3 linked regions of the Homo sapiens genome follow. The protein of the gene in region 2 purifies or fractionates together with the protein of the main gene of each other region. This does not show direct contact. Each region holds a gene or a part of one and is shown on either strand. Other genes may lie near its edges.

Evidence for each region. The genes of interacting proteins can lie anywhere in the genome.
Region 1: the proteins of PLTP (region 2) and ADPGK purify together in Homo sapiens (affinity purification with mass spectrometry; 4 studies listed by BioGRID and IntAct, with this or other methods). This does not show direct contact.
Region 3: the proteins of PLTP (region 2) and SEL1L3 purify together in Homo sapiens (affinity purification with mass spectrometry; 4 studies listed by BioGRID and IntAct, with this or other methods). This does not show direct contact.

Annotation. Positions count from the first base shown.
Region 1 is NC_000015.10:72,766,524-72,774,277, forward strand, and holds part of ADPGK (ADP-dependent glucokinase isoform 4 precursor), read right to left. Parts: intron 5,323-7,754; coding exon 5,260-5,322; intron 1-5,259. UniProt on the Homo sapiens protein: Catalyzes the phosphorylation of D-glucose to D-glucose 6-phosphate using ADP as the phosphate donor. GDP and CDP can replace ADP, but with reduced efficiency.
Region 2 is NC_000020.11:45,908,636-45,916,859, forward strand, and holds the start of PLTP (phospholipid transfer protein isoform a precursor), read right to left. Parts: upstream 3,521-8,224; 5' UTR 3,444-3,520; intron 2,829-3,443; 5' UTR 2,818-2,828; coding exon 2,718-2,817; intron 2,617-2,717; coding exon 2,517-2,616; intron 2,360-2,516; exon of another isoform or gene 2,236-2,359; intron 1,436-2,235; coding exon 1,307-1,435; intron 1,037-1,306; coding exon 881-1,036; intron 1-880. UniProt on the Homo sapiens protein: Mediates the transfer of phospholipids and free cholesterol from triglyceride-rich lipoproteins (low density lipoproteins or LDL and very low density lipoproteins or VLDL) into high-density lipoproteins (HDL) as well as the exchange of phospholipids between triglyceride-rich lipoproteins themselves.
Region 3 is NC_000004.12:25,859,754-25,867,640, forward strand, and holds the start of SEL1L3 (protein sel-1 homolog 3), read right to left. Parts: upstream 3,236-7,887; 5' UTR 3,084-3,235; coding exon 2,922-3,083; intron 2,401-2,921; exon of another isoform or gene 1,374-2,400; intron 1-1,373.

The DNA of each region.
Region 1 (7,754 bases), on a different chromosome or scaffold from region 2:
TTTTGGCAACCAAGCACTCTAAAATTGTGTACACTTTTTTTCAGACATAATGGTACTGCACACTTACTTGACGATAGTACGGTGTAAACATACCTTTTAATGCACTGGGAAACAAAATTCATGCGTTTTATTTTATTGCAGTATTTGTTTTATTGCAGTCGTCTAGAACCAAACATGCAGTATCTCTGAGGTATGCCTGTTATCACTTGAAAGTAGACCGTGATAAGCTAAAGATGTACAGTATAAACCCTAATGCAACCACTAAGAAAAAAAGAATTATACCTAATAAAGTCAGAGAAGATAAAATGAAATCATAGAAAATAATCCAAAAGAGTACAGAAAAAGAGGGACAAAGATAGAGATGGGGCAAACAGCAAACAAATAGCAAGATGTTAGATTTAAACCTAACCTGATATATCAATAATCACATTAGATGTAAATGGTCTAAACACTCCGATTAAAAGGCAGAGATTGTCAAAGTGGATTAAAAAGCAAGCCCCAACTATACGCTGTCTATAAAAAATACACTTTAAGGTAAAAAGATGCAAATAGATTAAAAGCACAAGGACAGAAAAAGATATACCATGCCAATACTAATCAAATGAAAGCTGGAATGGCTATTTCAATCAAAATAGATTTCAGAGCAAAGAATATTATGAAATGATTTTATTTATCCCTAGTAATGATAAAGGAATTAATTCATTAAAGGGATGTAACAATCCTAAACATTTATGTACCTAATAAGAGTTTCAAAATACATAAAGCAAAAAGTTACAGAACTATAAAGGAAATAGACAAGTATCCAAAATTACAGTTGGAGACGTCAACATACCTCTTAATAACTGACAGATCAAATAGACAAAAAAAAAAAAACCAATAAGAATATAGAAGACTTGAACAACACTATCAATCAACTTCATCTAATTGACATTTACAGAACACTCGACCCAACAACAGAAAGGCTTATGTATATTCTTGAAGCTTTCAAGTACACACAGAACCTCACCAAGATAGAATATTCTGCACCATGAAAAAGGTCTCAAAAACTTAGTAGGATTCAGGTCATAGAAAGCATATTTTCTGACCATACTGGAATTGAAATAGAAATCAGTAACAGAAAGACATCTGGAAAATCCCCAAATATTTAGGAACTAAATAACATACCTCTAAGTAGTCCATGAATGGGCTATTAAATGGCACATCTCAATAAATCAAAGGGATATTAGTATTTTGAAATGAATGAAAATAAAAATAATCCATCAAAATCTTTGGGATGCAGCTAAAGCAGTACTTAAGGGGAAATTTATAGCACTAAACCCCTATATGAGAAAACAGGAAAGGTCTCAAATCAATGATTGTAGCTTCTCACCTTAAGAAACTAGAAAAAGAGCAAGTCAAATCTGAAGCAAGCAAAATCCAATGAAAATAGAAAAACAGAGAAAAATAAATTCACCAAAAGCTAATTACTTATTAAAAAGAGCAATAAAATTTATAAACCTCTAGCCAAGCTGATCAGGAAAAAAAAGAAGATACAAATGACCAATATCAGGAATGAGAAGGAAAACATCATTACAAATTGTAGAGATCTTAAAGGAATAATAGAATACCATAATTAACTTTATGCCAATAAATCCAACAACTTAGATGAAACAAATTCCTTGAAAGATACAAACTACTAAAGCTCATTTAAAAAAAAAAAAGGAAAATCTGGATTTCCCTATATCTATTAAAGAAATCAGTTATTTAAAATCTTCCTACAGAGAAAACCCTGGGCCTAGAAGGCTTCACTAGAAGGCTTAAATTCTATAAACATTTAAGGAAGATACAATACCAATGCGACACTCACTCTGTTTTAAAAATTGAAGAAAGGGCCAGGTGTATTGGATGAATCCAAGCACTATGGAAGGCTGAGGCAGGTGGATTACTTGCAATCAGAAGTTGGAGACCAGCCTGGCCAACACAGTGAAACTCCCTCTCTACTAAAAAATACAAAAATTAGCTGGGCATGGTGGCACACACCTGTAGTCCCAGCTACTCGGGAGGCTGAGGCATGAGAATCACTTGAACCTGAGAGACGGACATTGCAGTGAGCTGAGATCGCCACCACTGCACTCCAGTCTGGGCAGAGCGAGACTCCATCTTAAGAAAAAAAAAAAATTGAAGAGAAGATAGGTGTGGTGGCTCACACCTGTAATCCCAGCACTTTGGGAGGCTAAGGCAGGCGGATCGCTTGAGGTCGGGAGTTGAGACTAGCCTGGCAACATGGTGAAACCTCAAGTCTACAAAAAATACAAAATAATTAGCTGGCTGTGGTGACGTGTCTGCAATCCTAAATACTCAGGAACTCGGCTGAGGTGGGAGGATGGCTTGAGCCCAGGAGGCAGAGGTTGCAGTGAGCCGAGATCATGCCACTGCACTCCAGCCTGGATGACAAGGCCAGATCCTGTCTCTCAAAAAAAAAAAAAAAATTGAAGAGGGGGAAACACTTTCCAACTTATTCTACAAGGCCAGTATTGCCCTGACAGCAAAACCACAGACATTACAAGAAAAGAAAAATACAGACCAATATTATTCTTGGGCATTGATGTAAAAATTTTAAACACAATTTTAGTAAACTGAATATGTGAAAAGGATAATGAATACATCAGAACAAAGTAAGCTTTATCCTAGAGATGCAAGGTTGGTTTAATATGTGAAAGTCAATATAATTACCATATATCAAACTAAAAAACAAAAAACCACACAATAACCTCAGTAAATGCAGAATTTGACAAAAGCATTTGACAAAATAAAATAACTATTCCTAATTCTTGCCTAATTCCACAAGTATATATTTTTTTGAGATGGAGTCTTGCTCTGTCGCCCAGGCTGGAGTGCAGTGGCGCAATCTCGGCTCACTGCAACCTCCGCCTCCCGGGTTCGAGCGATTCTCCTGCCTCAGCCTCCTGAGTAGTTGGGACTACAAGCGCCTGCCACCATGCCCAGCTAATTCTTTGTATTTTTAGCTAAGACAGGGTTTCACCATGTTGGCCAGGCTGGTCTTGAACTCCTGACCTCAGGTAATCCGCCTGCCTCGGCCTCCCAAAGTGCTGGGATTACACAAGTATATTTTTTAAAGGCACGGTTCCTCTCCTGAAATTTGGCTTCTATTCTATCATTCCACTAAACCTGCCTTTACTATATTCACCAGCGTCTATTTCAAAGATGCAATATAGCATGGCTATTAGGAGAATGGATTCTGAAGCTTGACTACTTGGGTTCAATTCCCACTCTACTCATTATCAGGTATGTGATTTTCACCAGTTTTAACTTCTCCATGCCTCATTTTTCCTATCTGCAAAATGGGGATAATAAAAAGACTTCCCTTATAGGGCCCTATGAAGATTTAAATTGGTTCATACACATTTAAAGCACCTAAAACTTAAAACAGTGCCTGGTATATGGTAAAAAACTATAGAAGGAAGTGCCAGCTATAATTACCACCTCTGGAAAATACCTAGTTCTTAATCTCTGTAGTTCTCAGATGATCTCTCAGTCCATGTTGAGAAGCATTTCAGAAAGTTAAACTGAGTCTCTTTGAGAGTGCATACAGGGTGAAGTAAAGGCAGAGCCTGACACTTGAATCCTGACTCTATCATTTACTAGCCAGGTGCCCCTGGGCACCTTACTTAGCCTCTCTAGACCTCTGTCTTTGAAATCATAAGACTGTTGTGAGGATTGAGTAACAGAATGCTTCTCTTTCCTCAGTCTCCTACCAAAGCCAGACCTGTTTTATTAGAATGCCTTCCAATCAGACTGGTCCCAGGACCAGCTACTCCAGAGACCAAGAGCAAATGCTGGTCCCAGGGGAGGTCAATACTGAAAGGTCAATCTTGTACTCAGCCATGACCGTCCTGGGTATTGTCTTCCCAGAGGGCAGAATTATTTCTCAGGATCAGGAGGGTGGCTTCTTAGGAAACCATGAAAACTCCTGGGATTCTGATGGGAATGGCCTGGGCTCTCTCTAAAGGGCTTATGATCAATCTCCTTTTCTTCCACCCATTAGCTGGTAATATTTCCAAAGGTCAGCCCTGGAATTTCTAATCTTCTCTATTTGGGAGTTAATTACAATTTATAAACATAATGACTGCAAAAGTCTTTATTTTCTTTTTATTATTCTTTCTTAAAAGTATTTTCTACCCTAATATTTCATGAGAACTTTGATTCCTATTAAAATATGAATGTTCACATTTTAATATCCTCTCTAAACTGAAAGCACATCTATCTCCAGGTGTATAGTGTGGCTCCATATGAATTTTTCCCTGAAACTGCTGATGACCTATCCGTATTTCTGAGTTCATCTCTGGCTTCTGGTTCCACCACTCTGACTCACATTTCTATTTTTAGGCTGGTCCCCCAAAACTAGAAGACTGTTCACAGTCTGTTTTCTAGTGTTAGCGGCCACAACCATTCTGCACTGATCAAGGTTATTTACTCCATAATCATCTTTGATAAATCTCTTCTTTGTTCCCCATGTATTGTAGTAGGTTTTAGATACATGTTTCTCCTCTCTGGCTGCTCTAATCCAAACCTTAATCATTATACAGGAAAACAGCGATAACTTTCTTGTTGGCCTCCCCCTTCAGGCCTATTCTACTCATAGCAAGAGAAACTTCTTACTCAGGTGTTACTGTGAACATGGCAACGATTTTTAATTCTACTTAAACCAAACAATTTAAGTCTTGAAGACACTCCCCTACTGACTCTCATCTAGTGGCTTTTATTTTTTGGCACTCTGGATCCAGGCTCACCAACACGGCCAACCGTTGTTTTCCCTCATGACTTGTATAATCCTTAGTCTCAAGGCCCACATGCTCCTAACTATTAAATGATATGGTGCCTAAGAACATGGGTTATTGGGTCAGACTGCCTGGGTTAAATTTCTCATTCCATTACCAATCAGTTGTGAACCTCTGTGTGCCTCAAGTTTTCTCATGCAGAAAGGAAGAACAATGGCAGTACCGACTAGCCTTACAGGGTTTGTTGCAAGGATTAGATAATCTATGCAAAGCACTAAAGACAATGTCAGGCACAGAGTAAACACTCAAAGTATTAGTTACTACTATCTCCTACTATTACTGCTTCCTAACAAAAGACCCAGGGTCTGGTACATAGTAGGTGATCCATAAGTTGAATCAAGGAATAGATACTCATTCTTGCTCCTAAAATTATTGAAACACTAGGGAAAGGCATAGGTTTTAATCTAAAAACTTGACCTACCTTTAAATCTGAGTTGGCTGCAAATTTCTGTCCAATTAAAGCTGCATTTCCTCCTACATAGTGCTGTAAGAGAGTTCAAGGCTTTTAGACAGTATTTTAATACAACTATATCACCCAAGTTTAATCATTTTTTATTTTAAAAATTAATTTATAGTCCATTTCCCAAAAACATTTTGAGGTGATTTTACATCAAAGGACACACAGATGAAGTGAATGCAACACAGAAATAGAAAGTGAGTAATAAGATGAAGAAAATAAATAGGACAACCATGAAAATGAGTCTGATTGCTTTAACTGTTGATCAAATTCAGCTCTGAGCTTACAGACAGCCAGAAGAGACACAGGAAACAGGAAAAGTGTGGACAGGGCTTATCGTCTACATTATAGTCCTTCTAAAATGAAGAAAAATTTCACTATCCTGTGGAAAAATCATTCAGTAGATACTATAATGAACTAAAATCTAACTCTTGAGTGAGGCACATATGGCCTTTATCTAACCCATGTTTTCCTTACTACCTTCATCTCCTGCCCTTCCCTTCCACACCCTGCTTACAGCTCTCCAAGTCAGCCTTCCCCTGTCTCTGTGCCTTTGGCACATGCTGTTTCCTTCCATTAGGACACCCTCCCTTTCTCATATACTAGGTAAAACCCTGATCACTTTCCAAGAATCAGCTGCAGTGTCACCTCTTCTGTAATGCCTTCTCTGTTCCCCTTACACCCCACTGACATCTCAGCCTTCACAACCGCCCTCACCAGATAGGATTACAGATCTCTTCCTACCCCTATAACCTGAACAAACCTCTAATGCAGCTCTTGTCTGCTTGGGCTACTATCATCTGGGTACACAACTAGGTCCTTCGGGGCAGGGACTGTCTTCTTCTGAAGTGTTCAGTAAATGTTTGTTGCTAAATTTTGAGAAACGAAGAAACACACTGATGTGTTGGGAAACATAAAAGTTTTCCTGGGAGTAAATTCTAAAGATAATGGGCCCCTAATATAGGACAGTACTTTCCCTTAAACACCACATCTCTCAGCTGAGGACCTGGAGAACAAATAATTCAAGGTTGGTGTTCCATGTTGCTAAGGATGGATCCATATGCCTTGGAAATCTGACACATAACAGCTAAGGCTGCTGTTCTATTATAAAAGTTGAAAAGCCTGATAGTGTTACCTGGGTGGAATGCTACTATCCCAGCTTCCTAGTCCTCAGCCCACGCAGAGGCATAGACTAAACCAGGGGTGTCCAATCTTTTGGCCGCCCTAGGCCACACTGGAAGAATTGTCTTGGGTCACACATAAAATACACTAACAATAACGACAGCTGATGAGCTATTAAAAAAAAAGGGTGGGGGGGAGGTTAAATCTCATAATGTTTTAAGAAAGTTTATGAATTTGTGTTGGACCACATTCAAAGGCATCCTGGGCTGCAGACTGGACAAGGTTGGAGTAAACAATTCTAGATGGTAGACATCACTCTTATCCCAATTTTGTGCTGACTAACCTCTGAATTCAGGTGGGACAGTAATAGCTTTTTAGAGATAATTTAAAACTTTCTGTGATATGTAGGCTGAAATTTGGCCCTTTAACATGTCAGCCTTAATGTTTTATTCAACCACGATAGTTAGAATTTACTAAAAAAAATCTTGGGAAAATAGTAAGATATCTACAAAGTGGATTTCAGAATTTTCATATAATGTTTATCAACCTGCCTTAAACTATAAGGAAGTATGAAAAGGCACTCCTCTAGTGAAAGGGGTTTTACAATGTTAAGAAATAACCTGGACCATCACAAAGCTAGATCAAGTTGCTGTAAAAATTTTTTTCATCAAGAAATAAAGGCAGAATCAAGAGAGAAGAGAAATCAAACTGGTGGTTTAAATTCCGTAATCATAAAGACTTTTGAGCAGTGAACTCATCATGTTAGAACTATCGAGATTCTCTCATAAGAGATAAGAATCTCACTACTGATCCCAGTTGTCAAAATGATAACTGAAATCTTAACTTGCTGTCACCTTTAGAAACTCAGCTAGGTAATGCCTATGTCCATTTCTAATGTTCAAATAGGCAGCTTCGAAGACAAAAAACTTATTTTTAAAATTTTTTTGAGACAGGGTCACACCCTGTTGCCCAGACTGGAGTGAAGTGGCACGGTCATGGTTCACTGCAGCCTTGACCTCCCGGGCTCAGGTGATCCTCCCACAGGCACATGCCACCATGCCCAGCTAATTTTTTGTATTTTTTGTAGAGACAGGGTTTCACCATGTTGCCCAGGCTGGTCTCAAACTCCTGGGCTCAAGCAATCCACCTGCCTCAGCCTCCCAAAGTGCTGGGATTACAGGCGTGAGCCACTGTGCCCGGCCTAAAATCTTAAGTCATCAAAATAAAAGTAGTCACAAAGGTTTGCCTGTGAAAGGTGCCAATTAAAAATGGCATTAAGAGCTTCCCTGGCTAGAACTACCAAACCAGACTGGGTGCCCAGCCAAAGGGAGGTTTAA
Region 2 (8,224 bases):
CTAAAAATACAAAAAAAGTAGTTGGGCATGGTGGTGCATGCCTGTAGTCCCAGCTACTTGGGAGGCTGAGGCAGGAGAATCGTTTGAACCCAGGAGGTGGAGGTTGCAGTAAACCGAGATGGCGCCACTGCACTCCAGGCTGGGTGACACAGTGAGACTCCCTCTCAAAAAAAAAATTATTATTTTTGTTATTATTATTTAGAGATACCAATTATTGAGAATCCAGTACATGGCCAAATGTGCATATCAGATAGTCCTCACAGTTACTCTTATCTAAGTGGCCAGCACTTAAATATACATTTATCATATGCCAGGTGCTGTTCTAAATTTTTTTTTTTTTTTTTTTTTGAGATGGAATCTTGCTCTGTCACCAGGCTGGAGTGCAGTGGCACGATCTCAGCTCACTGCAACCTCCGCCTCCCGGGTTCAAGCGATTCTCCTGCCTCAGCCTCCCACGTAGCTGGGACTACAGGCACGTGCCACCACGCCCAGCTAATTTTTGTATTTTTAGTAGAGATGGGGTTTCACCATGTTGGCCAGGATGATCTCGATCTGTTAACCTTGTGATCCGCCCGCCCAGACCTCCCAAATTGCTGGGATTTCAGGCATGAGCCACCACAGCCAGCCTTGTTCTAAATATTTTTTACATATACCAACACAAATAATCCTGACAACGATCTTATAAAATAGGATCTTATAAAATGAGGATATTGAGGCACCAAGCTTCAGTGACTTGGCCACGTTCACACAGCCAGGAAGTGACAGAGCTGAGCTTTGGACCCAGTTGGTCTGATTCCCAGGCCTATGCACTTTGCATTGCGCTAGGCAGATGAGCTGTGGGGCTCGAAAAGGGTGAGCTGGGGTTGGGGCTGGGGCTTACTTGAAGGTTCCCCCGAAGGCCGCGTGCATTCTGGAGACAGAGGCCTGGCAGGAGACATTGGACACTTTCATCCGTCCAGCGGGATCCCGGGAGAGCTCCAGACCAGTGCGGATGGACACACCCTCAGCTGAGGCGTTGATGTAGCCCCCATCATAGCTGCCAGGGGGGTTAATATTCACTCCAGGTAGGAGCTCAATTGAGTCTTCAGTGCCCCCATGCATCACCATACCTCTTAATAAGGTTTCACCTCTTTCCACACATCCTACCAAACCTTCCTATCAACTCGTATGAAATGCATATGCCTGTTTCTGTTACACAGATGAAGAAACGGAAACTCAGGAAGGCTAAGGGGGCTGCCCACAGCCCCACAGCACCTCCAGCCCTCCTGACCCACTCTCCACTCCCCTGAGGGTGCTGGGTCCTTACAAGAACCAGTAGAGCAGCTGTCTCCGGAAGCGCAGCCCCAAGGAGGCATTGGTGATTTGAAGCATCAGCTCCTGCTGTGGCTGGAAATCGAGCTCGGAAGATGTCAGTTGCAGCTCTGTGACCTTCACCCTACAGGAGGCCTCAGGGTCAGATCCAGGGCCAAGAAGAGGGAACTTCCCCCAACGACAGGAAATTTGTCTGCTCCCCTTTCAAGTCCAGGCCTGGGGAAGCGGGAGTGGGTGGAATGAATTCTTCCATTGTCCCTCAAGTGCCCAACTTAGACTTGGGTGGCTCAAAGTTGAACTTGGGTGGCTGAGAGAGGAGGTCTTCCTGATCCAGGTGTTAAAAATGAGCTTCACCCCATCGCTTAAAAGTCTTGTTTGTTTGTTTGCCAGGTGCGGTGGTGGCTCATGCCTGTAATCCCAGCACTTTAGGAGGCCGAGGAGGGCGGATCACTTGAGGTCAGGAGTTCGAGACCAGTCTGGCCAACATAGTGAAACCCGTCTCTACCAAAAATACAAAACTTAGCAGACCGTGGTGGCACGCGCCTGTAGTCCTAGCTACTCGGGAGGCTGAGGCAGGAAAATCGCTTGAACTCGGGATGCGGAGGTTGCAGTGAGCCAAGATCGCGCCACTGCACTCTAGCCTGGGCAACAGAACAAGACTCCCTCTCAGAAAAAAAAAAAAAAAAAGTCTTGTTTGCTTGCACCCCCTCCCCTCCCACACCCTGGGGTTGCTACACCCGGTCTTTTAATAGAGTCCGTTCACTTTGCCTCCATCACCTAAGCTCCGTCTCACATCTCAATTCCTTATTCCCCCTCCCTCATCCTAAACCATACTTAGAGCCTTCAGTTTCTCCACCCCTCCGATTAACTCCACCCCGTGCCCGAGACTCCACTCTCATCTATTGGGAAGTTCCTTGACTCCACCTTTCTGTTGTTCTTCGACCACGCCTCACATCCACTGGTCCTGCTTCCTTCTTGGCCCCCTCTACATTTTCAAGGCCACGCCCATCTGCCTGGTCCCGCCTATGATGACTGGCTTGGCCTTTATCTTTTCGGCCCCATCCGGTTTCTTAAGTCTTGCCTCATCGATTTGGCCACGCCCCATCCCACTCAGCCTCCAGTCTCCCGAGACCCTGAGATTTCTCGGGCCCCGCCTCCACCGCCGAGGCCCCGCCCCGGATCGCGAGGCCCCGCCCCCCACTTACTCAGAGATGTTGTAGTAGAAGTGGCCTTCTTTGCCCCGCAGGTCCGGAATGGTGATAGTCTCCAGCTCTTGCTCCAGAAAGCGCAGCCCCTCCTGCTTCACTGAAGCAGCAGAGAAACCCTTACTTAGCTCCCGTGCCCACTGTTGGGGCGACCCCAACCCCGTCCGCTCCCGTCCGTCCCTGTCTGCCCCTGCGCCTTACCCAGCTCCAGCGCCTTGGAGGTGACGCGGATCTTGCAGCCTGGGAACTCTGCATGTGCGCCTGCCAGCAGCGCTAGGAAGAGGGCCCCGAAGAGGGCCATGGCGAGCGGGCCTGGGGGTGGGGTGGGGTCGCAGGAGTTATCTGAGCCGCTTAAACCCATTCCTTGGACGTCCAACCATAAGTGGGAACTAGCCTGGATCGTTACCCTCCAGATAACTCTTCGGGGAACTTGGAACCAATAATCTTGCCTCCATATGGCAGATGTGGAAACTGAGGCTCAGAGAGGCGATGCGACTTGCGTTCTGGCTCCCAGAGGATTTGGGACACGGGGGAGGGGACGTTCCCAGTTCCCTCGTGCTACCGCCGCGTGATGAGTTTGGACCTCCAGGGGACCAGCCCCCACACCCCCAACAACCTCCCCTTTCCTTTAGCGGTGGGCCCATGCAGGCTTGCACGTTGCCACGGCAACGACTGCACGCGCATTCTTGGAGGGTGGCTTGCGGTCTCCTAGGCCTCGCGCCCGGGGAGGAGAGGAGGTGGCCGACCAGACCGTGGGCTCCCGGGTCTCCCGGCTCCCTCAGGTCCTAAATCTCTCCCATTAGAGATTCTGCCTGGAGCCCCCATGTTAGCGTTCTCCTTCATCGGCTCTCCTCCCCACGCCGGCTTCAGTGCACCACGCGGCTCGGCGAGGGACTGGGAACGGGATAGGGACGCGCCCCAACTCACTCAGCGGTGGAGCTGGGGGGCGGCGCGGTCACGTGGGATGGCGGGCAGCTCAGGGGATCCGGGCGACGGGGTCTGGCGGGCAGGGTTGTTCCAGCCGCCTTTATAAAGCCGGCCTCCCCGACCCCTCCTCCTCTCTGCAGCTCTCCCCTCCTCCCTTGGGGGCTGGGAGGGGACGGGGCGGGACGCTGGCAGCCGGGAGAGTGGAAAAGGCTGCACAGAGCCCCGTGACAAGCCCGGCCGCTGTCTGGACAAGTGGGAGACCCAAGCCCAGGGAGAGGGAAGGAAATGCAGGAGCCGGCCCACTCAGCCCCAACAATCCCACTTTGCTGGGACCTTGGTTCAAATTACAATTATCCATGTCTTCCTGCATGATCTTGGGCAAGTCACTTCACTTGGGTCACTGACCCTCAGTTTCTTCCTTCAGCGAAATGTGCACGATGATAGGAACTACCTCTTGGGCCTTTATTACAACCAGGTCCAGGCACAAAGTCAAGGAATATTTTTTCTTTCCCTGCCACCCACAATCATCTCGGGACCTCCTTGCCTGGCTTTGCTATGGGCCCCCCTACCTGTCTCTGTGTCACCACCTGGGGACCTTAAGGTCCCAGAGACCTTTCCCACTTGGGAAAGCAAGACTAGACAAGTGCTGTCAGCCCAGGAACATACCACACCGGCTGAAATCAGAAGGAGGTCTGCCATTTATCGTGGCTGGTGGATTGTTTTTTCTATTTTTTTTATTTTTATTTTTTGAGACGGAGTCTCGCTCTGTCCCCCAGGCTGGAGTGCAGTGGCGCGATCTCGGCTCCCTGCAAGCCCCGCCTCCCGGGTTCACGCCATTCTCCTGCCTCAGCCTCCCCAGCAGCTGGGGCTACAGGCGCACGCTGCCACGCCCGGCTAATTTTTTTTGTATTTTTAGTAGAGACGGGGTTTCACCGTGTTAGCCAGGATGGTCTCGATCTCCTGACCTTGTGATCCGCCCGCCTCGGCCTCCCAAAGTGCTGGGATTAAAGGCATGAGCCACCGCGCCCGGTCCACTGGTGGATTTTTTAATGAACCCTTGGAGCAAGGTGCTCTGAACAGCATCCCCGCCCCCACCCCCACCCCCACCTCCATCTACTGCTTACAGGGTTCCCGGACCCTAGGACAGGGCACAGAGTGGGTGCTTGCCACCTTTTTGTTGCCAAATGGACGAAAGAAAGGGGAAGCAATAATCATGTCTGCTGAGCATGTATTTAGCACCAAACACTCATCTAGGAAGGATGACTAACTCATCCTGATTTGCCTAGGACTTTCCCCATTGTGTCTTTTTTTTCTGATATAATCCACAGATTCACAAAAATAGTTCCATTTCCTTTTTTATTTAATTAATTAATTAATTTTTTTGAGACACAGTCGTGCTCTGTCACCAGGCTGCAGTGCGGTGGTGTGATCTTGGCTCACTGCAACCTCTGCCTCCTGGGTTCAAGTGATTCTCCTGCCTCAGCCTCCCAAGTAGCTGGGACTACAGCCATGTGCCACCACACCTGGCTAATTTTTGTATTTTTAGTGGAGACAGGGTTTTGCCATTTTGGCCAGGCTGGTCTTGAACTCCTGCCCTCAAGTGATCCGCCTGCCTTAGCCTCCCAAAGTGCTGGGATTACAGGTGTGACCCACCATGCCCAGCCTATTTATTTATTTTTATTTATTTATTTAAGATGGAGTTTCTCTCTTGTTGCCCAGGCTGGAGTGCAATGGCGCAATCTCGGCTCACTGCAACCTCCGCCTACCAGGTTCAAGCAATTCTCCTACCTCAGCCTCCCAAGTAGCTGGGATTACAGGCACCCACCACTACGCTCAGCTAATTTTTTGTATTTTTAGTAGAGATATGGTTTCGCTATGTTGGCCAGGCTGGTTTCGAACGCCTGACCTCAGGCAATCCACCTGCCTTGGCCTCCCAAAGTGCTGGGATTACAGGCGTGAGCCACCGCGCCCGGCCGCCTATTTATATTTTTAGAGACAGGGTCTTGCTCTGTTGCCCAGGCTGGAGTGCAGTGGTACAATCACGGCTCACTGAAGCCTCCACCTCTTGGGCTCAAGCGATCTTCCCACCTCAGCCTCCTGAGTAGCTAGGACTACAGGCAGGTGGTACCATGTCATGTCCAGCTAAGTTTTGTATTTTTTGTAGAGACAGGTCTCACCATGTTGCCCAGGCTGATCTTGAACTCCTGGACCCAAGTGATCCTCTTGCCTTGGGCTCCCAAAGTGCTGGGATTACAGGCGTGAGCCACACATCCAGCCATCCCCATTTTGAAACCATTCCTGGGAACCCACTCAGTCCCTGGGAAACCTTACAACTGGTCATCCGAATTCTAGGTAATTTATTTAACCTTAACAACCTGTCAGACTGGCACTATTATGAACCCTCTTTAACAGGAAGTAGAGGTTGAAGCAATTCTGTGGCTGCTATTAGGGAATCCGTAGACTGTTCATGGAAGAGTGGAAGGTGGGCTTTATAGCCCGGTAGTTATGTACTTAGACTCTTGTGTCTGACAGACAAGAGTTTACACCCCAGGTTGTCAGTTCTTAGGTGTATGACATTGATCCCTTGCTTAAGCACTCAGATCTTCAATTTCCTCATCCTAAAATGGAAACAATAATTTAAGGTTATTGCAAGAATAAATGGGCCTGGTACATGACACATCATTAGTGCCAAATAAATGCTAGCTATCTTAATTAGGGGCACATACCACGAGCAAACAAAGCAGAAAAGGTGTAGAGGGAGAACAGAGAAAGTGTTAAGAGTATCCAGAGGAGGAAGTATCTGTGTTCCTTTGAACTCTAGTAACCTTCCTAGAGCCTGGCTCAAGCAGAAAACCTGGTGGATGTTAGTTTTCTTTCCTCTTATTTCCTTTCTTTTCTTTTTTTTTTTTTGTGGGGTGGAGTCTCGCTCTGTCACCCAGGCTGGAGTGCAGTGGCACGATCTCGGCTCACTGCAACCTCCACCTCCCAGGTTCAAGTGATTCTCTTGCCTCAGCCTCCCGAGTAGCTGGGACTAGAGGCGCCTGCCACCATGCCCAGCTAATTTTTGTATTTTTAGAGACAGGGTTTCACCGTGTTGGCCAGGTTGGTCTCGAACTTCTGACCTCAGGTGATCCGCCCGCCTTGGCCTCCCGAAGTGCTGGGATTACAGGCATGAGCCAGTGCACCTGGCCCTTTTTTATTTTTTTTTAACAACAACAACAAAATACATTTTATTTATTTAAGATAGGGTCTCACCATGTGCTCAGGCTGATCTCCAACTCTCGGGCTCAAGCAATCCTCCCACCTCAGCCCCCCAAGTAGCTGGGACTACAGGTGTGCACCACCATACCTGGCTGTTTTCTCTTCTTTTCTTTCTTTTTTTCCCTCTTTTTTGAGAGAGGGTCTCATTCTGTTGCCCAGACTGCTGTGCAGTGGTGCAGTTACGGCTCACTGCAGCCTCAACCTCCCCAGGCTCAGGTGATCCTCCCACCTCAGCCTCCTGAGTAGCTGAGACTACAGGTATGTGCCACCATACCCAGCTAATTTTTGTATTTTTCACAGAGATGAGGTTTCACCATGTTGCCCAGGCTGGTCTTGAACTCCTGAGCTCAAGAGATCTACCCACCTCAGCCTCCCGAAGTGCTGGTGTTACACCACATCTGGCCTTTCCTCTCGTTTTCTTTTTCTTTTTTTCTTTTTTTTTTTTTTTTTTGAGACAGAGTCTTACTCTGTCACCCAGGCTGGAGTGCAGTGGTGCTGTCTCGGCTCACTGCAACCTCCACCTCCCGGGTTCTAAGCGATTCTCCCGCCTCAGCCTCCAGAGTAGCTAGGATTACAGGCACACACCACCACAGCTGACTAATTTTGTATTTTTAGTAGAGATGGGGTTTCACCACGTTGGCCAGGCTGGTCTCGAACTCCTGAGCTACCAAAGTGCTGGGATTACAGGCGTGAGCCAGTGTGCCCAGCCTTGCTCTCATTTTCTTAGGTGAAATATTTCTCGCTATATTGCCCTTGCTGGTCTCAATCTCTTGGCCTCAAAAGATCCTCCGATCTTGGCTTCCCAAAATACTGGTATTACAGGCGTAAGCCACTGTGCCTGGCCTCACTCTTCCTGGCTTTGAAGACTGAAGGAGAGGCTTCCCAGCAATCAAAGGGATGGGAAAGAAATGCTTTTCTAGCCTCAGTTGTGTACCCAGATGAATCCAGGCTTCATCTTTGTATCATTTTTATCTCTTAAATGGTCTTGTCCCATGCAATTCACTGGCCAGTGGCCTAACCCCTCTGGATCTCAGTTTCCTCATCTGTAAGATGAGGATGATCCAGGTACCTCCCTCTTAGGATTGCTTGTGAGGATTAAATGAGTTAATGCATTGAAAGGGTTTAATAAGTACTTGGCATTTCCTAAGGGCTCAAAAAATGTTACCTACAATCATTAGCATGATCAGCCATCAGTGGCTTTTCACCATACTGGAATAGACTCCTGCCTCAGTACCCTGATTCCCTGGCATGTGATAGGGCCTACTCTCTCTGTCTCACCTCTCACCTCTCTTGCCCTTTGCATTCGGCTCCAGCCAAACTGGTTTTTCTGTTCCTTGAATGTGCAAGTTCTTCTTGCTCAGAGCCTTTGCATTTGCTGTTCCCTCTACCTGGAATGCTTTTCCACCTGATCTTCCTTGTCATTTTGTCTCAGCTTATTTTATTTATTTATTTTTTGAGACGGAGCTTCGCTCTGTCACCCAGGCTGGAGTGCAGTGGTATGATCTCGGCTCACTGTAAAC
Region 3 (7,887 bases), on a different chromosome or scaffold from region 2:
CTACATAAAAACCCCAAACCTTTATCTCTTCATTAACGATGGCAAATATTTTCTGGCTTTACCTTTCTTCCCCACTTTAACATCCTGCTTCTATTCTGTGGCCTGCGCTTCCTGCTTTGTATATTTTAGATTACTTTAGACATGACCTCACATCCTGGCCAATTGCACAGTAGCTGCTAATTGCTAGAGCTCTGCTAATGGCCCGTACATCGATGAAGAATGAGTTACAAGCAGCAAAATCCAGAAGACAATAAGCTAGTGTGGTTTAGAGCTGGGGCTCTGGAGGGAGACAGATTTGGGTTTCAATCTCAGACTGTATGGCCTGGGGCAACTAACTTAACCTCTCTGAGTCTCTGTTATCTCATCTAAATGGAGATTATAGTAGCTCCTACCTCAGAGGGCTGTTGCTAAGATAAATACTGGATAATGCCTATAAACGATTTAGCACAATGTATAGCACAATGTAAGCTATCGTTATTACCATGTAGGCTTTCAAATTATGAAAGACCTTTCCTCCTCTAGAGTCTACATATTCCTGGGATCCTGCCCAGCTATTCTGCTCCATCTCTACCCTGCACCTGCCCAGCCCCATCCCCCTGACCAACCACTTCCTCCAGGTAGCATTCCTTGATTGAGCAAAATGCACACAATTATACATTTGCGTTTTCTCTCTATTGTTTTATGTTTTTCAAGTGTTTCATATGGATATTTACATTTTCCCCAATTCTCACACCAAGCTTCTCCAAGATCAAGAAGCCTTGCCTTCAGTAGTATCTTGGGTAGTGTAGACCCAAGAGCAACATCCCTAGTAAACGGCTAGATCTTCAGAACAAAATGTGGAGACTACCTTTTAAGTCGGCCTTTTGTGTCCTTTGCAAAATGGCTCTCTTGTTTATCAAAGTCTGTCTTGTACAGTAAGCGTATCAGAAGTCCATCTGAAGGAAGCATACAAAGGCAGGAAGCACTGACATTTCCCCCCACCATGAGGTCCCCAAATCCATTCCTTCCCCATCTGCCAAGACATTCATCCATGCTCTAGTTATTTTCCACATCACAGTATTTTCTAAAATTACTCTTTCCGGAGCCCTTCCTCACTCCTTCACTATCTCACTTGAGTCTATCCATGGCATCATTTTTCCCTCTGTTCTCTTAATCCCCCTTGGTGTACACAGAACTTTCACAGGAATACTTGCTCCATCATTATCTGTCTCTGTTTCCAGAGTCCACTTAGGCCCTTAGGCTTTGCTCTCCTGACTCTGACTTCCTGAACTGTCCAGAAGTAGTCCCCCTCCTTGCCAGGTCTTGAGATGTCCACGTGGAACTTTTCGGCCCGGCCCATTTGTATATGAATGTTTCACGCAACACTCTACTACATCACTTCTGCTTCTGTGGGTAGCCAGCAGGGCCCTGTGTACAGGGATCATCTGTTTAAACTGAAATCTTGTCATTTGTTATGGCAGTTTTATTTATGAGCCTGTGTGTTGTAACCTTGTGGCATAAATATTAAATAATAATATCTCTTGGGCAAAAAAATATCATTCATGTTAACTGACAACTTCTTATGAAAATATGAAGTAAGCCCAACCACACAATTTGATATTGGCTAATTCTGAAATATGAGTAAAAGCACGGATTGCTCAACAGGTAGATGCACAGGCAGAATTATAATTTGCATTTTTACACCTTCTTGCTTCAAGAAATGAAACATTCAAGAAGTAAAAAACGTTAAAAGAAACGGGCTGAGTGGCAAATTTCTTCAGAATCAAATTCTAATTTCTGCCAGTATCTCCTAAGCAGTTTTTAGCTTCCAAAAAGAAAGACTCCAAATAATGACAATGCCACATAAGTGAAATGAATTCTGGACAATGACACTGCTCTTTTTTTTTTTTTTTTTGGCATTCTGTGAATTTCCTATTACATCAGTTTCATGATTCAGCATTTTCCATTTCATTTATTTACAGTAATATATGGCGAGATAACCCAAGGTTTCTGCAGGATTGTGGAACATAAGTTACTCTGGGCAGGAAGGGTGTCGCCTTCTGTAAATTTACTATTGTTTAGGAGAACTCAAAACAGAAGCAAGCAAGCCCTCAAAGGAACTGAGAAAATTTCTCCCCACTTTGTTCTGAGGGGTCTCAGCTACTCTGGTATTTAAAATAAATGGGTTTTGAAAAATAGGTTACTGCCCTTTAGTTGATGACTAAAACAGAAGCCAAGAAGTGTGCAAATTGCAAACTGACATGCATGAGCCAAACATATTCTCTGAAATGACAATGTTCAAGACGCAGCTAAAGTCACCACTCTGGCGGTAAGCGTGTTACAGAGAACTAGATTTCTTTCCGGCATCCGCAACTTGGCTGGAGTGACCAAGGAGGAGTTGAAGAGCGCTGGAGATGCGAGGTGCGTTGGCAGAAAACTGTCCGGGCCGGGAGGACCCGGTGGAAACTAAAAGGAGGGTCGACGCGGGTGGCGGGCGCCGAGAGTAAGAGGCGAAGTTGGGCACGGGAAGGAAAGGAGCTGCGAGAAGATTGAGAGGGAAGCCCAGGAGGGGTGGGGGGTTGGGGGGTGCTGGAGACTGCGCGCGGCGGGGCGGGGAGCGAACTCCGGGCGGCGAGGCTCCCGGGTGGAGTCGAGGACAAGAAGGGGTCTCGAGGGTAACCCGACCCGGGTCTAGAGAGAGTCCAGGAGGGAAAGGAATGAGCACGAGCGAGAGAGCAGCTTGGCAAGTCCGGTCCAAGCGCCCCTCTCCACGCCCGGGGTACCTATCCCAGGTGCCGGGAACGCCCGGGGCGCAGCGACGAGGAAGAGAGAAAACTAGCAGCGGCGTCCCCGCCCCGCGTGGCGGGTGTCCCCGGCCGCCCCCACCCGCGTCCCCGGGGCCCCGCGCGGAGGGGAAGACCCGGGCAGGGTCCGGCGCTCACCAGGTAGCAGAGCAGGAGCAGCGCGCAGGCAGAGCGGCCGCCGAGGCCCTGGGGGACGCCGCCACTCGGGACCATGGCTGCGGCCCGGGGGCCGACCGCGAGCGGCGGGGGTTGCTGCTGCTGCTGCCGCGGCCACCCGAGCCCCGCGCCGCGCCGCTGCATGGCGAGGCCGCCCGGATCCGGGCCGGAACAGGTCACCTGGTGCAGGGACCGGCCCCCGCCCGAGGCGCCACCTTCCCGCCCGCCCCCGGCCGGGCCGGCCGCCGCGCGCGGGGCCACCTGCCGCCACCTCCGGACCCGCCGCCGCCGCCACTGCCGCTCCCGCCGTCGCCGCCCCCGCAGCCCCAGCCGAGCGCCGGCTCCTCCCCGCCTCCCCGTCCCCGTCCCCTCCCTCCCCTCTGCCTCCCTGCCCAGCCCTCCTCCCGGCCGCTCCCTCTGGCCCCCGGGCTTCCACCCCTCGGAGCAGCGGGCGCCCACGCAGGTGGGCACCGACCCGGGTCCCGCCCCTTGGCCGCCGCCACCCCCCGCCCGGGTCGCTGGGCCCCGGCGCACCCCCCTTTCCCTTTCTCTCTGCTCCTCCCCCGCCCCCCTTCCGCGCTCCTGCTCTCTGCGATCCCCCTCCTCTCCCTCCGGCTCCCTCTTCCTTCTCCCCTCGCGCTCCCAAACCCCCTCTCTTTTTCACTTTCTCCTTTTCCTCCCTTTCCTCTTTCTCCCTTCCCATCCTCTTCCTCGCTTCCGCATTCTTCCTCTCCCACCCACCCCTTTTGCGGGTCGCACAGACCAGTTCCCGCCCGTGCAATGGGTTTTTGTCTGGTTGCTTTTTTGGCCGGGGCGCCATTCCCGCAGGGCGCAGGGCGAGTGTGCCCCCTGGAGTTGTGCCGCGCAGCTGCCCGGCTCCCAGGCCTTCAGGATGGATTTTGACCCCTGCCAACCTCCACCTGTCCACCTGCGGGGTTGGGACTGCCTCCTTGCTGGCATGTTTGCAGCCGGGCTGCGCCCCACCCTGCCGGCTGGTTCGCGGCACGTTCTGGATGTTTCCCGAGGGTTTTGTGTGGTGCCGCCGCCACCGCCACCACTGCGCTCTTTGTTTTAATTGTCCAGAGTATTGGCACCCAGGACGGGTTTGTATTTGATTTGCATCCCTGTGCTCCGGCTTCCACTTTGGACTGAGAAAAAAATGAATTAATTAGGTCAATACAGTAATACTGGAGCCCCAAATGAAAGGGGTGAGGCCCTGGAAGTGCGCAAACAGCTTTTTAAAAAACCAGGACACATCCTCGGCCTTGGGGACGCAGGTTGAGACTGGCTGCTCTCCGACCCGGGTTCTGCGGCCTGGCGGGGAGGGGCCTCCGGCCGGCGGGACCACCAGCTCGCCGCCGGCCTTGGCTTTCAGGGAAGCGCTTGGCTGTGTCTAGCGGCTCCGACAACTATCTGGGCCCGCAGCTGCTGCTCTGAAACAGTTAATCCACCTTCCAAAGTTCGCAGAAGCTTCCCTTTAGCACTGGTAGATTTGTGCGGATTGGAACTAATAATAGCCTGGGAGCCTGAGAGGCCACAGCCCTTTCCCTGTGCCACGAGCATAGGTCAAGTCACAACAGACGTCGGGGAGAGGCTGGTGGTGAGACGGGGTGCCCGGGATGGTTTGACGGGCGTGGACGCGCCCTCAGCTGCTTCAGTACAGGCCTGGCCACACCAGGCATGGTGGCTCCTCAGCTGTCGTCCACTTTTTTTTAGGTCACCTAAGAGCTGTGGCCTTGTGTGAGTTCCCTGGCCTTATTCCACCGGTTCTCAAACTTCAGAATTACCTGGAGGGATTGTTAAAACACAGATTCCTGGACTTCAGCCCTAGAATTTCTGACTCAGTTGGTCCTGGGAGGGACTTGAGAATGTACCTTTCTAACAAGCTCCTGGGTGATGTTAACGCGCTGGTTCAAACAGCCCTCCTCCATTTCCAGAACTATTGGCTTTTAGGGAACTGGGCTCCTGCTCCTCCCAGCCAGCTGCCACCACATTAAAGCATTTTGGGGGTTTTGACAGATGCTCCCACTATCTCTGTTCCACTTCTGCAGAAACAAAGCACTTAACATTCTTCTGTGTGACGTGGAAAACATTTATTCTATCGAGTGTCCAAGGGAACAAAAGATTTGGTGGCTTTGTCCCAGATCCTGTCTATATCTTTTCCATCAGGTCAAAATACAGACTATGCTTTTAATGTATATGGAAGGAAAATTGTCGGCCAGTTCAGGGGGAAGGGGCTTCAACAGGCATTGCAGCATTTCTAGGGTTGCCACCTGTCTTCCTGGGCCACGCTCCGGAGTTTCTCTCCTCCCACATTGTACACAGATTCTGTTGGTCTTCGGGGAGCTAAATGGTTCCTCGGGGTTGTTTGTAATCAGGATTCATGGAATTGGGAGTTTTCAAGGCCTTGTGAGCTTTGAGGATTTGGGTTTACCTAAGTGTAGGTAAGCAGAGTGCCCCACTGGAGGCTGGACTGTTTCTAACTTGCCATATCCAACTGCTCACTTCTCCCCTACTCACTCATCTCCTATTGTGTTCCTACTGTGGACTGGGCACCACCTGAGGCCCCAGGATTCCAGAGGTAGGCAGGAAGGCTCTGTTTCTGCAAGGAGCACCAGGCATGCAGAAAACCGGCCAGAGTTTGGTCTTCTAAGAGGGATGTGTGAGTTGCTCTCTCATCCTGAGCTAGAGGTGGTGGGATTAACTGCTTCATCCTGTGTTGGAGAGGGGGAGAGAAAAAGTCAAGATTTCTTTTCACGGGGGAGTGGGACGTTTTGATCCAGAAGACAGAATCAGCTCTTACTTTTGCGTCTCTCCAGCAGTTTGTGTCAGTCATTGAAAGGGCGTGGTCTGATTTCAGAAGAAAGCCCTTTATTTAAAAAGAAATATATCTTCCCATTGTCCCATGGAAGGGCTTGAAATCTCACCATTACAATTCATCAGTTTAAATTAAGTTTTAATACTCCACTAAAAGTCGAAGGCCCCAGGGGGAGATTGGCCTCCCTTATTACTGCCTTGGTGTGAGTCAGTTTATCACATGCCCTTGGAAAGGGACCAATTCCACACCTCAACACGGGAAAGGACAAAGGCACAGAGTCCTGAGCTCATCATGGCCCGCCCCTAGGAGGAGACTTCAGAGGCCTGGAGGGAGGGGCTGGAGAAAGGACTGCATCTGCATGCCTAGGTGGCACATCATAGCATTCCAGGTGAGATGTTCTGAGACTCTGAAATTTTTTTTCTTTTTTTTTTCTTTTTGAGACGGAGTCTCACTGTGTTGCCCAGGCTGGAGTGCAGTGGCGTGATCTCAGCTTACTGCAACCTCCACCCCCTGGGTTTAAGCTATTCTCCTGCCTCAAGCCTCTAGAGTAGCTGGGATTACAGGCACCTGCCACCATGCCCAGCTAATTTTTGTATTTTTAGTAGAGATGGGGGTTTCACCATGTTGGCCAGGTTGGTCTTGAACTCCTGACCTCGTGATCCACCCACCTAGGCGTCCCAAAGTGCTGGGATTACAGGCGTGAGCCACCATGCCTGGCCCAAAATGGTTTAAGATCAGTCACGTCTCGGGGACCAATGCACTTGGTCAACTATTACTTTACCAAGCAAAAATAGTTTTTATAAACCAACTGCATATACTATCTTCTGTCAGTATCATTTCATTAAAAAGACAAGGCCTTTTGCCATCAAAAAATTAGGAAGGGCCTAACATCCTAAGAAAAGACTGGTTTGGGTGCCATGGCTCATACTTGTAATCTCAGCACTTTGGGAGGCCAACACGGGTGGATCACTTGAGCCCAGAAGTTTGTGACCAGCTGGGCAACATGGTGAAACCCTGTCTCTACTAAAAATACAAAAATTAGTCAGGTGTGGTGGTGTGTGCCTGCAGTCCCAGCTACTCAGGAAGCTGAGATGGGAGGATCGCTTGAGCTCAGGAGGTCAAGGCTGTACTGAGGTCTAATCACACCACTGCACTCCAGCCTGGGCGACAGAGTGAGACCTTGTCTTAAAAAAAAAAAAAACAAAAAACAAGCTGTTCTTTAATCTGAATATTTTATTTCCGTCTTGTCTTTATATGTTGCATTTTGCTGTGGATCAGTAAAAACTTACCTTTGGAGTGGCCCTGTCCATGTCGGCAGTTGGTAACCACATTTCTATATACTAAGGATGTCTGGGGCAAAGAGATCTGCCCCTGCGGAGACAAATGACCTCCAGATTACAGGAGGTGGGTAGGAAGGCATTCTGCAGGAGTAGAGAGTGTTCCTTCCATCCACTTACCCTCCCACATAAATCTTTGAGGCCGAGGCAAATGCTGCCAGTTTTAGGGAATCTTCCCTCATGGCCTCAGGTCGAAACGCAATGGGTCGGTTCTCTGTGCCCCCAGCAGGCATTGCCTGTAATCCTAAGTGGCCACTGGCTAACTCTGCCTTATATTGGGTATGTTAGTTGGCCTGTTCTCCTCCAGTAGACTATATGCCCCCCGAAAGCAGGGGTTATTTCTTAACCGTTTCTCTGTACCCCCATGCCTTGTACATAGAACATTTCTGACATATTCACTGAATAAAGTTGAATCCAACATCTTCCTTTTTCATTTTTTCCTCTCCATCTTTCTTCCTCCCTCCCTTCCTTCTTTTCTTTTTTTATTCATTGTTGTCTCCCCAGTCTCTTCCTGTTAGAACATGGTTATTTCCACACTCAGGTTTCTCTGTAATTCTGCAGTCTTCTCCTTTCTTCCCCCTCCCTCTTTCCTGTAATTTCAGTTATTCAGAATGAAGATGAATGAACCGTGACATTTGCCTTTTATATCAAAATAAAAGAGAAGAAAGCAGAAATAGAAGAGAGGAAAGCAAAAATAGAAGATTGCTGTCAGGCAACACACTCCCCATCCCAATAGGAAAACCATGGTCTTTCTTTCTGCCAAAGGTGACCTCTGGGATCTAGACAAATCCTG